2 linked regions of the Homo sapiens genome follow. The protein of the gene in region 2 interacts with the protein of the main gene of each other region in a pairwise test. Each region holds a gene or a part of one and is shown on either strand. Other genes may lie near its edges.

What was found. The genes of interacting proteins can lie anywhere in the genome.
Region 1: the proteins of PRR5L (region 2) and MORN3 interact in binary tests that used the Homo sapiens proteins (3 or more experiments, as listed by UniProt).

Annotation. Positions count from the first base shown.
Region 1 is NC_000012.12:121,648,242-121,652,654, reverse strand, and holds the end of MORN3 (MORN repeat-containing protein 3), read left to right. Parts: intron 1-1,010; 3' UTR 1,011-3,913; downstream 3,914-4,413. UniProt on the Homo sapiens protein: Assembles a suppression complex (suppresome) by tethering SIRT1 and MDM2 to regulate composite modifications of p53/TP53.
Region 2 is NC_000011.10:36,291,470-36,299,972, forward strand, and holds the start of PRR5L (proline-rich protein 5-like), read left to right. Parts: upstream 1-4,818; 5' UTR 4,819-4,969; intron 4,970-8,503. UniProt on the Homo sapiens protein: Associates with the mTORC2 complex that regulates cellular processes including survival and organization of the cytoskeleton.

The DNA.
Region 1 (4,413 bases), on a different chromosome or scaffold from region 2:
TCCTGGGGTCTCCAAAGGGCTTGGGGTCGGGGAGTGGGGGAGCAAGACCATCGAGGGCAGGCTTCTTGCCTCCTACAGTCCCAGGTGTCCTTTTTGACGCTTCCTCTTCAAAACCCCTTTTGACCGGCTGTGGTGGCTCTTGCCTTTAATCCCAGCACTTTGGGAGGCCAAGGCAGGCGGATAAGTTGAGGTCAGGAATTTGAGACCAGCCTGGCCAACATGGTGAAACCCCATCTCTACTAAAAATATAAAAGTTAGCCAGGTGTGGTGGCAGGCACCTGTAGTCCCAGCTACTCGAGAGGCTGAGGCAGGGGAATCACTTGAACCCGGGAGGTGAAGGTTGCAGTGAGCTGAGATTGCACCACTGCACTCCAGCCTGGGCGACAGAATGGGACTCTGTCTCAAAAAAAACAAAACTCGCCAGGCACAGTAATCCTATAATCCTGTAATCCCAGCACTTTGGGAGGCCGAGGTGGGTGGATCACGAGGTCAGGAGTTCAAGACTAGCTTGGCCAAGATGGTGAAACCCCATCTGTACTAAAAACACAAAAATTAGCTGGGCGTGGGGGAGGGCACCTGTAATTCCAGCTACTCAGGAGGCTGAGGCAGAGAATTGCTTGAACCTGGGAGGCAGAGGTTGCAGTGAGCTGAGACTGTGCCACTGCACTCCAGTCTGGGTGAGACTGTGTCTCAAAAAACAAACAAACAAACAAATAAACAAACAAACAAACCATTTCACTGAAGACCAGTGCATTCCAGTCCTGCCTGAAACCTTCTATTTGCACCCTGGGCCACACAACTGAGCTGGGCACGGGGTTGAAAGGAGGTGGTCTCCTGGCTTCTGAACACCCTTGAGTAAGGCAGTTGGCCTTCAGCCTCCATTTACACATCTGTCCAGTGGGGTCTTGTCCAGTCCAAGTCCTCCTGGGCATGATGTGAGGGTTTGAGGAGAGGACATTGGTAACAGCGTCTTTCAAATGCCAGCTCCACCATCCCTCTCTCCCCTGCAGAGAACACAAACGCTTCAGGAGAAATTCAAGCCTGTGTCACCCGATCGCTCAGACCAGTGCGGCTCTGGCTGGAGGAGTCAGCAGCAGCTCCAGGCATGACCCCGGCACCCTCATAGGGCCCCTCACTACCCCCAGCACTGGGTCATTTCTTGCCAATAGGAAGGCTGGTGCTTCTCTCCCAGGCTGTCCTCGGGACCCTCTTCATTCTCTGATCTCATCCTGGAATGCATGAGAATAAAGAATAACCAAGTGGTATAAGCCTGGGCCTATGGGATAAGGATGGGGCACTCGAGGGGGCTCAGCAGGGCTTTCAGGTTTAGAAGAGGGAAGACCTGCCTTGGCTGGGCTGCCTGGGTTTAGCTTGGGGGAGTAAGGGCAGGTCTTAGGCCGGGTGCAGTGGCTCATTCCTGTAATCCCAGAACTTGGGAGGCCAAGGTAAGAGGACTGCCTGAGGCCAGGAGTTCGAGACCAGCTTAGGCAACATAGCAAGACCCTGACTCTACAAAAAAAAATTTTAAAATATAAAAGAAAGGAAAAGAAAAAGAGAAAGAAATGGCAGGTCCCCTGTGAGATAACCCAGATGACCCAGAGAGAAGGCCTGTATCCTGCCACACTGGCTGCCAAGATTGGAGATCATAAAATTTCCTGACCACTTCTCAGCCTAACACAGGGCTCTCAACCTTGAAATCCCATGGAAACTTTGCAAAGCTGTGGAAGCCCAGGTCCCATGCCCAGAGATTCACAGGTTCACATCTAATTCATCTGGGGTGAGGCCTGAGCTTTCAGAAAATTCCCCAGGTGATTTTTTTTTTTTAAGACGTAGTCTCCCTCTATTGCCCAGGCTGGAATGCAGTGGCGCGATCTCAGCTCACTGCAACCTCTGCCTCCCATGTTCAAGCGATTCTCCTACCTCAGCCTCCTGAGTAGCTGGGATTACAGGCGCATGCCACTGAGCCCAGCTAATTTTTGTATTTTTAGTAGAGATGGGGTATCACCATGTTGGTCAGGCTGGTCTTGAACTCCTGACCTCGTGATCTGCCCCGCTCAGTCTCCTAAAGTGCTGGGATTACAGGTGTGAGCCATCGAGCCTGGCCTTTTTTTTTTTTTTTTTTTTTTTTTTGAGACAGAGTCTTGCTCTGTCACCCAGGCTGGAGTGCAGTGGCACAATCTCGGCTCACTGCAACCTCGCCTCCCTGGTTCAAGCGATTATCCTGCCTCAGCCTCCCAAGTAGCTGGGATTACAGGCACCTGCCACCAAGGCTAATTTTTTGTATTTTTAGTAGAGACAGGGTTTCACCATGTTGGCCAGGACGGTCTCGATCTCCTGACCTCGTGATCTGCCCGCCTTGGACTCCCAAAGTGCTGGGATTACAGGTGTGAGCCACTGCTCCCAGCCAAGATCAGATGTTCTTGCATAATGGGCAGGTGAGCTCTGGAGTCACAGTGCCTGGGCGTGAATCTCGGAGCTGTGTGTTCTCAGGAATGTCACCCAAACTCTGTTCTGTTGGTCTCCTCACTTGCAATATGGGGCATTAACAGTACTTACCACCTGGGGTTACTGTGGTTAGTTACTGTGAGGATGAGATAAGGCGGTGGTTTTAAACTGTGGGTAGGATTTTGTCCTCCCTCAGCCCCACTCTTTCTTGGGGACATTTGGCAATGTATGACATTTTTGATGTCACAACAGGCAGGAAGAAGGCTACTGGCATTGAGTGAGTAGAGACCAGGGATGCGGTTAAGCATAGTGCAATATCACCATGCTACAAAAAAAAAAAAAAAAAAGAATTCAGCACCTGTAATCCCAACTACTTGGGAGGCTGAGGCAGGAGAATTGCTTGAACCTGGGTGGCAGAGGTTGCAGTGAGCCGAGATTGCGCCATTGCACTCCAGCCTGGGCGACAGAGCGAGACACCATCTCCAAAAAAAAAAAAAAAAAAAATGTTGAGAAACCCTGAAATACCACGATTCTAGCTAAGACCTCAGCAAGAGGCACATAGCACATAGTAAAGCCTCAATAAACACCACTGACCTTACTGAGGTTCTCTCTGCCCCCTAAGTCATAAGTAGGGTGGCCTCACCAAGGGTGTGGTTCTCAGTCTGTACCTCTGGCACTGGGAAGCCCCGCCTGGCCACCCTAGGATGCAGAATTAATCATAACTTCCAGATATGGAGCACTCACTCTATTCCAGGCCGTGTGCTGACAGCTTCGCAGCAAGCATTCTCTCCTGGCACTCCCCGACAACAGTGAGGTGTCTTGCTATTACTGCCATTTTAGAGGAGGAAACAGGTTCAGGGAGGATCACAAGTCATCAAGCTAGTACTGTGCTTAAACTTAGGTCTAGCTGTTCTTAATGTGCAGAAGAGTGTAAAGGGTTACCATTTTTAAAGAAAAAGTGGGGGCAGGGCATGGTGGCTCATGCCTGTAATCCTAGCACTTTGAGAGGCCGAGGCAGGCGGATCAAGAGGTCAGGAGTTCGAGACCAGCCTGACCAACATGGTGAAACCCTGTCTCTACTAAAAATACAAAAATTAGCTGGGTGTGGTGGAGTGCATCTATAATCCCAGCTACTCAGGAGGCTGAGGCAGGAGAATCACTTGAACCCAGGAGGCGGAGGTAGTGGTGAGCCAAGATCACGCCGAGCCGAGATCGTGCCGCTGCTCTCCAGCCTGGGCAACAGAGCGAGACTCCATCTCAAAAAAAAAAAAAATGTTGGAAGAGGGTGTGCTTGTTTATGTACAAAATGTCGCTAGATTTAAACACAATAAACTGGCAAAGATGGTTGTCTCTGGGGAGAATTGGGGACTTGGGAACAGGAGCTGAAGAACAACTTTTCAGTGTTGTGTTTGGAACCATGTGAATGTATTATGTATTCAAAATGTAAATAAAAATGAAGTTAAAGAGACTGTGCTCCTAACTAGGAGTGTTTGTCTAAGTTGCCTGGGTGTGAGAGCACCTGGGGTGCTTGTTAGAAATAGATTCCAAAGACACACCCAGACCTACTTAAATCAGAATCCTCCAAGGGCTTCGAAACCTGCATTTGACAAGCCTGGCTGATGAGTCGAGTCCCGGCCAGTTTAGGAACAAGAACCCAAGACAACAGGATCCTAGCCCAGAAATAATTCCAGCTGGATCTTGCATCCCTACAGAAGTAGGGAGGTGGCTGTCCTAGGGGAATACGTAAAAGATGTCCAGGACGGCCGGGTGCGGTAGCTCACGCCTGTAATCCCAGCACTTTGGGAGGCTGAGGCAGGTGGATCACCTGAGGTCAGGAGTTGGAAACCAGCCTGGCCAGTGTGGTGAAAGCCCATCTCTGCTAAAAATACAAAAATTAGCCGGGCGTGGTGGCTCATGCCTGTAGTCCCAGCTACTCGGGAGGCCGAGGCAGGAGAATCCCTTGAACCC
Region 2 (8,503 bases):
TAACTTTTCCGTGTACAAATTCTTGAACTTCTCTGGGCCTCAGTTTCCACCTCTGTAAAATGGTGTTCATCACACCCATCTAGTTCAGAGAGCAGAGCTGAGCGACAGGAGCTGCTTCAGTGGGAGGATTCCCAGCTCTCCTTACTCTCGCGGGCTGGTATGATATGAATGGCACCATGTCATCCCATTTTGGTAGGGCTGCCCAGATTGCCAATGCCATGTTGCATGTAAAGGTTTGTCTGTGGTCTGCAGAATGTCCAGCAATTTCTAAACCATAAACATTTTCATGGGTGGGAACAAAACAGAATGTCGGAGTTCATTTCTGTGATTTGGTCCCATTGCCTGGTTTTCATTAGGCCAAACCTAATTTCTTTCCAATTCTGAATATAGGAATCAGTGCTGACTTTCATTTATTTAATAAACTTGTTATGTGCCCGGCTCTGTTCTAAGCCCTTACATTTACTGATTAATTTACTTCCCATTCCTATCCTATGATATTATATATATACGTATGTATATACATACACACACATATGTACACACACACATAAGTACATATACATATATAAGCACACACACTGTATTGTTTCCATTTTACATATGGAGAAACAGACATAGGCAGATTAAGTAGTCTGAGGTCACACAGCTAAGTAGTGGCAAAGCCCAGATTCAAATATGGCCAGTCTGGCTCCAGATTCTGCACTGTTAACCGCCAAGCTGTACATGTCTCCTTGTTGTCCCACAGCTGTAAATTTGTGTTTCTTCTCTTTGCATGTCTGACTACCTTCCTCAGGCAGCAAGAACAATCTAAGAGTGTTCCTGTACAATCAGTCTGGTGATGGTGAGAAACAATATAATGAGTGAGTGGAAGGGCTACCTTGGGCTTTGGGAAAAGACCTAGGTTCAGTTTCCAACTCCTGTGTACTGTTAGCAAATTACTTCCCCTCTTGGAACCTCAATTTCATCATCCGTAAAATGGGAACAATAATAAAAATACCTTTTGGCCATTAGGGGGAGCTCAAGGATGACTTATACCCCAAAAGGGGAAGGATTGCTTATGTGGATTCTCAGTTCTAGTCATTGGCAACGCTAAAGGGCAGAGCTTTCCCCTGTTGTGGGCAAGGGTTTGCACGAGGGGGACTGGCCATCCCAGTTTTCCCAGGGATGAGGGGTTTCCTTGGATGCAGGACTTTCAGGGCTAGCGCTGGGACAGTTCTGGACAAACCAGGCCAGTTAGTCACCCAAGTTTGAGCCCTGAGCCTTGGGGGAAACCAGCCTTTTGGAACACTTGCCCTGATTTCTCCAGTGGGGCAGATATGAAGCAAGGGATATGGACACAGAATTTATTAGTAGAAAATGATTAAGGGCAGCAATCTTAGTATTGAGGGTTTTTTTATAGTAGCTTTATTGAAATAGAATTAACATTCACATACCATACAATTTATCCATTTGAAGTGTAAAATTCGATGAATTTTAGTATACTCACAGAGTTGTCCAACTATCACCACAATTAATTTTAGAACATGTTCATCATCCCCAAAAGAAACAGCATATCCTTTAGCTATCAACACCCACCTCTGCCCCCAATTCTCCCCATCACACCCAGCCCTAGGCAATCGCTAATCTGCTTTCTGTCTCTATGGTTTTGCCTTCTGGACATTTCCCATGAATTGGATCATATGATACGGTTTCTCCTCTTATACTAAGTAAAGGAAACGAGTACAAAAGACCACATATCATATGTTTTGTACTCGTTTCCTCTACTTAGCATAAGAGGAGAAACTTCTTCAAGGTTCGTTCATGTTATAGCCTGTATCGGTACTTCATTCGTTTTTTGCTGAATAATATTTTTTTGTACAGATATACCATAGTTTGTTCATTCATCAGTTGTAGACATTTGAGTTGTTTCTACTTTTTAGCTGTTGTGAGTAATGCTGCCATGAGCAATCATGTACAAAGTTTTTGTGTGAACATGTGTTTCATTTCTCTTGGAGTATACACTGAAGAGTGGAATAGTGGAGTTTCTGGGCCATATGATTACTCTGTGTTTAACCTTTTGAGGAAGTGTAAGACCATTTTCCAAAGTGACTGCACCATTTTACAGTCCCCAGAAGCAATGTATAAGGGTTTCAATTTCTCCACATCTGCACCAACATTTGTTTAAAAAAAAAAAGAGACAGAGAGATGGGGGTCTCTGCTCTTTTACCCAGGCTGGAGTACAGTGGTGTAATCATGGCTCACTGTAGCCTCAAACTCCTGGGCTCAACTGATCTTCCCACTTCAGCCTCCTGAGTAGCTGGGACTACAAGCATGCACAACCATACCCAGCTAATTTGATTTTATTTGTTTTAGAGACAAAAAATATGTTTTGTCTCTAAAACATATGTTTGCTATGTTGCTCAGGCTGGTCTCAAACTCCTGGCCTCAAACGATCCTCCTGCCTCAGCCTTCTGAGTAGCTGGGATTACAGATGGGAGCCACTGCATCTGGCTCTGCCTTTTTGATTATAGTGATCCTAGTGGGTATGAAGTAGTATCTCATTGTGAGCCGTCTTGTTTTGAAGTTGCATTGGTATATCAAACACATTTTGTAACTGGTTCTGTCTTTTTGATTATAGCAATCTTAGCGGGTATGAAGTGGTATCTCATTGTGAGCAGTCTTGTTTTTAAGGTGCATTTGCATAGCAAACACATTTTGTCACTTACGCTACTTTGGTTCATTTGAGGTAACTGATGAAGGTTATGGAAGCTTAAATAAACTCCTATTCTCCCCTTTGGTTTCACTACTAAGTCCTGGCTGCCTTCTTTGTCAGAGGAATGCCTGCAGGAGGTGGATTAGGCCCAGGGTCCTGCAGTCCTTTAAGGAGAGCCCTTGCCACCCTCCTGTTATTCCCCTAGTTTCCCTTTTCCTCACCTTTGTCTCAGTCCAGAGATGAGGGTGGGTTGCAGGGGGAAAGGGCTGATCAATCTTTTTGACTTTATGCCCCCTTTGTGGCTTTGACGTGGCCTGATCAGCTCACCAGTCGTCTTAGTCCATATGGGCTAATATAACAAAATACCATAAACTGGGTGGCTTTATCAACAACAGAAATGTGTTGCTCATAGTTCTGGAGGCTGGGAAGTCCAAGACCAAGGCATTGGCAGATTCTATGTTTGATGAGGACGGTTTCCTGGTTCACAGATGGTGTCTTCTCACTGTGTCCTCAAATGGTGGCTGTGGGCAAGGGAGCTCTCTTGGGCCTCTTTATAAGGGCACTAATCCCATTCATGAGGGCTCCACACTCATGACCTAATCACCCCCCATAGGTCCCACCTCCAAATACCATCACCTGGGGGTGAAGATTTCAGCATATGAATTTGTGGGGGACGCATACACTCAGACCGTAGCGCAAGTTGGGGACAAAAGCTCTGAGTGTCAGCAGGGTTGCACTGGCTTGGAAATGCTGGAAATCTGGAAATTTCCAGATCAGGCATCACAAACTGCATGATCTAGGGCTCACATTGCATTAACAATGTTGTGTTTGGTCCACAGTGTTTCAAAATTGGAAAACTCGACATAAAAAATCCAGCCTTCTGGCTTTTCTTTAAAAATGTGCAGGCCCAACCATGCTGTTTCCACCTTTCTGCATTGCAGTATTTGGCTGAGGCTGAGCCCTGGCTGCCCTCTGAAGACTGGTGTGAGCTTTCAAATCCCCACAGTTCCCGCCACACACTGTTGCATCACAGTGGGCCCTCTCCACACATTTGTCACCTGTCTCATACTTGAGAATATTTATTAGTGCCCAATTCCTTCAGGGACCTAACAGGGTGAACTTAGGCCATAGTAGGTAACAGGGCTAAATACAGACACTTGGGATCCTGGCTTTCCAGCCATCCCCATACCATCTCCTCATGAGTACAAGCAAGTTTCAGGTGTAATGTGGGCATCTAATTTGTGATTTGTGGTTCTTGATCACTTTTATGGGCCAGCCACTGTTCTAAGAGTTTTGCATATATTAATTCATTTAATCCTCCTAGGAACCCAATCATAATCCCGGTTTACAGATGGGAAAACTAACACCCAGAGAAAACACTTGCTCACAGTCCATGGGTAATAGTTGCAGAGTCAGAATTTGAAGTCAGGAGCGAATGAGGTCATTTTGCAAGGTTGCTCATGACCTAGTGTCTGGTTCATTATGGGGGTTCAGTGGGTGCAAGCTTTATAATATTCATCTAGTCTTGCCAACTGCTGCTAACGTGCTGCATGGCTGAGGTTTAGTCCCAGCCAGATGTCCCATCACAAAAGTTAGGCATTGAAGTGGATGACATTTGTGTTTAGAGAAATGATATGTCTCATTCTTTTCAGCTCTAACTTGGGGTAAGTTTCTGAAAGCAAGTAAGAGAAAAGGAGAGGGACATTTGTGATCTCTCATGTATAGAAGACTAACAAAGAGGCAGGTGGTCACACCTGAAGGCACGTCCCCTGACCCTTATTACATAATGCCATGGGCTAAATGTCCAAAATTCCTCTCCCAGCTCTGATTGGCCTGGCTACTATGATGAGTGAAGTCCACCAGGGAAGACACTGTGGCCTCGTTTCTCATCCTCCTGTCCCCAGGAGTAACACAGAAGCAGCTAGTAACACAACAGCATTGTCCTCACATACACAGGCCTGCTTTGTTTCCCCACCACACAGAGCAGCCGCTGTAACAATGGCCCCGAATGACACTTTACCCTCCTTTCTCCAATGTTGCACTTGTTTTTTTAGTCTGGAATGGGCTAAACAATGATTTCCTGCAGGGGGTATCAGCTTTTTATATTTTCTGCCTGCTTCTCTGTCAGTCTTCAGGCCCCAGGTCAGTGAGTGGCAAGCCAGGCCCAGAGATCTCTGCGCCCGTTGGAACATCCCCTTCTCGGGAGGCTGGAAGGCCATGGTCATTCACCTCTCCCCAGCAAGGTGGGACCTGCCCTGGAAGAAGAAACCAGACCAGGTAACACAAGAGAGACAATGAGAGCTTGGGGCTAGGGGGTGGGGTTGCAGGGGATGGCTGAGTATCCAGCCCAAGGAGGATGGGTTTCTGGCTTCAAGACATCCGATTTTCTTGAAAGCCACCATCTGCTGTTAAATAAATAATGAAAAGCAACAGAGGTCAAGTTCAGCAGCCTCCCAGTTAGAAAAATACCCTCTGTCTGTCTGGCCCTGTTCAGTGCCTCTGATATCTCTGGGTGACCAGGGTCTTCATGGCCCATGTAGATTTACTGAGGTGGCTGTTGCCTTAATAATAGCTGCTAGTACTAAGCTCTTTCTCTATGTATTGCATATGTATACCTATTACTGTATGTCTCTCATTGAATGAATAGTAATGATAGCAAACCCTTATACAACATGCCTCAGATTCTTGCTTCTTTCAAACCCAGGGAGTCGGGTTCTAGAATCTGCGCTTTTCGTCATCATGCCCCTTGTAAAGCATTTTTTTTTACAACATCCTGCTAATAAACCAAGGTCATCACAATATTTCACTTTGAGAGGCAATGATATATGATGATAGCTATGTGTATTGTGAGTCCTTTGCCCTGTGCCAGGCAGCATTCTAACTGTTTTGCAGCTATTTCATCAGATAGATACTTTATGATCTCTATTTTATGGATGAGGAAATTGAAGTACGGATAATTTAAGTCATTCACCCGGGGTCACACAGTTGTTAAATGGCAGAGCCTGGATTTGAATTCAGTTTTCTCTTAAGTAGTATGGGAATCTTAGACCCGCCCAGCCCTGCTGGTCTGGAGTTATTCTGCTTCTCTAGGTCATGGTGTATAGAGGGTGACATTCAGTTTCTGGCTTCATAGAACATCTGCACCCAAGTTGACAGCTTAAGGAATTTTTTCGTTTGTTTATTTTAAATGATTTTTCTATTGGCATCAGCTTTTGTCTTGCTTGAAGAAGATGGAATTGCTCAATGACGACAGTGAAGGAATTTGAAAGGGTAAGAATTGCTCAATGAGTGGTATCTCTTTTTTGGCCAGAGACCAGGCTAAGTTGCCTCATATGTAAGAGAACATACGTCAAATACACAGGACTCATGGTATATTATGGAAGCAAACTTTATTTTTGCCTATCATTGTCCCTAATTTTTTTCAGCAGGTCCTCCCTCTTCCCTTGCCCTGGGATGAAAATTAAGGTAGGTCCACAACTCTTATGGGCCCCCTTCAGGAATCAAAAGTTCTTAAGTCGCTTTTAGTTCCAGCACAGCCTCATTCAGCAATTGGGATGTCCAGTCCCAGGGAATCAGCCAGATCTTTGAATTTGGTTCCCAGTGGAGACTTTTCTCCCTCCTCCAGTGGGGCCTGCAGCTTGGAAAGGGGGTCTGTGGTTGGCTTCTCATTTCCCACGTTAAGCTTCCATCCTTCTCTCCTCTGGCTTACTGATGATTCTGACTCCTGGCAGGGGGAAGGGGAAAAGAGAAGAGGCAGGAAAGGAGCTGGAAGTCCGTACTTGGTTAATGCTGTGGCAAGCTGGCATTTCAGTGGCAGGTTCTGGTGGGTGTGTAAACCTAGTTCTTTCTCTCTAGGCACAATCTTGTGGATACTTCAGAGAGCACCATTATTTCTCATCTTTGGGGATCTCTGAGTTGCTGGTCCCTTGAAGCTGGTTGCCTAATAAGACTCCTTCCTTAGTTCCCTGGCATCTAAGCAGTGCCGTATTAGTTTGCTGGGACTGCCATGACAAAATATCACAGACTGAGGGGCTTAAACCAGCAGTCCCCAATTTTTTTGGTACCAGAGACCAGTTTTGTAGATGACACTTTTTTCCACAGACCAGGGTAGGGATGGTTTCAGGATGATTCAAGTGCATTACATTTATTGAGAACCTTATTTATATTATTATTACATTGTAATATATAATGAAATAATTACACAATTCACCACAGTGTAGAATCAGTGGGAGCCCTAAACTTGTTTTCCTCCAATTAGACAGTCCCATATGGGGGTGATGGGAACCAGTGACAGATCATCAGGCATTAGATTCTCATAAGGAGCATGCAAACTAGACCCCTCACATGCGCAGTTCACAATAGGGTTTGTGCTCCTATGAGAATCTAATGCTGCTGCTGATCTGACAGGAGGTGGAGCTCAGGTGGTAATGTGAATGATTGGGAGCAGCTGTAAATATGGATGAAGCTTCGTGCTCTCTCTGTCCCTGCTGTGTGGCCTGGTTCCTAACAGACCACAGACCAGTACTGGTCCATGGCCCGGGAGTTGGGGGCCCCGGGCTTAAACAACAGAACTTAATTTTCTCCCAGTTCTGGAGGTTAAAAGTCCAAGATCAAGGTGTTGGAAGGTTTGTTTTCTCCTGAGGTCTCTGTCCTTGGCTTGTGGATGGCCACCTTCTCACTGAGTTCTCACATGGTCTTTCCTCTGTGTGTGCATTCCTGGTGTCTCTTGGCATGTGCAAATGTCCTCTTCTTATAAGGACAGCAGTCAGAGAGGATTAAGGCCTACCCTAAGGGGTTCATTTTAACTTAATCACATTTTTAAAGGTCCTGCTTCTAAATGCAGTCACATTCTAAGGTCCTGGGGGTTAGGGCTTCATCATATAAATTTTGGGAGGATAGTTGAGGCCACAACAAGTGCTGTCAGCTTTTCTCTGAAGGTAAATTTCCATTCCTCCTGGTGGTCCTTGTCAGAAGGACCTACACATCCCAGAGGTTGGCCACAGTACATCTCTGGCTTATGGAAAATGCTCGTTTCATTATCCCAGGAAATCCAAAGCTACCACGTTCTCTCCACTCCAGCTGATCACTCCATCTCTCTTGTATTTTGGGATTCACAGACATGATTCAGACATCAGCCCTCAGTGACAGTCAACCTCCAGGGACACAGCATCTTGGAGGCCAATCTTGGAGGGTGGGTAGTGGGCAATTGGGACTTGGAGTGCTCCTATTGCTTTCTCCAAAATTCCTCCTCTACACCACCAACTGTTCTTCTCACCCAGCTTTCTTTGTGGGCTGAAGATGGTCAGTTAAGAGGGAAACCAGTTTCGTGCCACTTCTTTTGTCAGCCCTGCATGATGGCCTCAGTGTCACAGCTCACTTTGAAACATGTCTTTTGTCCTTGGCAATACCTGAACTGAGACCATAGTCATTTTTACATCCTGCTACACAAATAGCATCTCATTTAGTTTTCATAAAGAACCCTAGGAGTTCTTCTGCATATGGAAGAGGAATCTGGAGCTCAGAAAGGTTAACGAATTCACCCAAAAGAGATTATTCAGCGAGTGGCGGGGAGGGGAGTAGAGATTCAAGCTTTAACCCACTTCATTATTTACTTCTCTGGGCCTTCATCATCCAGGCTTCTTAGAGCTTTTACCTACTGGAGTTTGGTCTGTGCTGCTAAAATGTTTTCTTCTTAGCAGAAAACTATAAAGGTAAACAACAACAACAACAACAACGACAAACACTTCATCGCTGCTTGCACCACTTGTGATGCAGGGGCTGGCAACAGGAGTGACAGGTGCATCAGGAGCT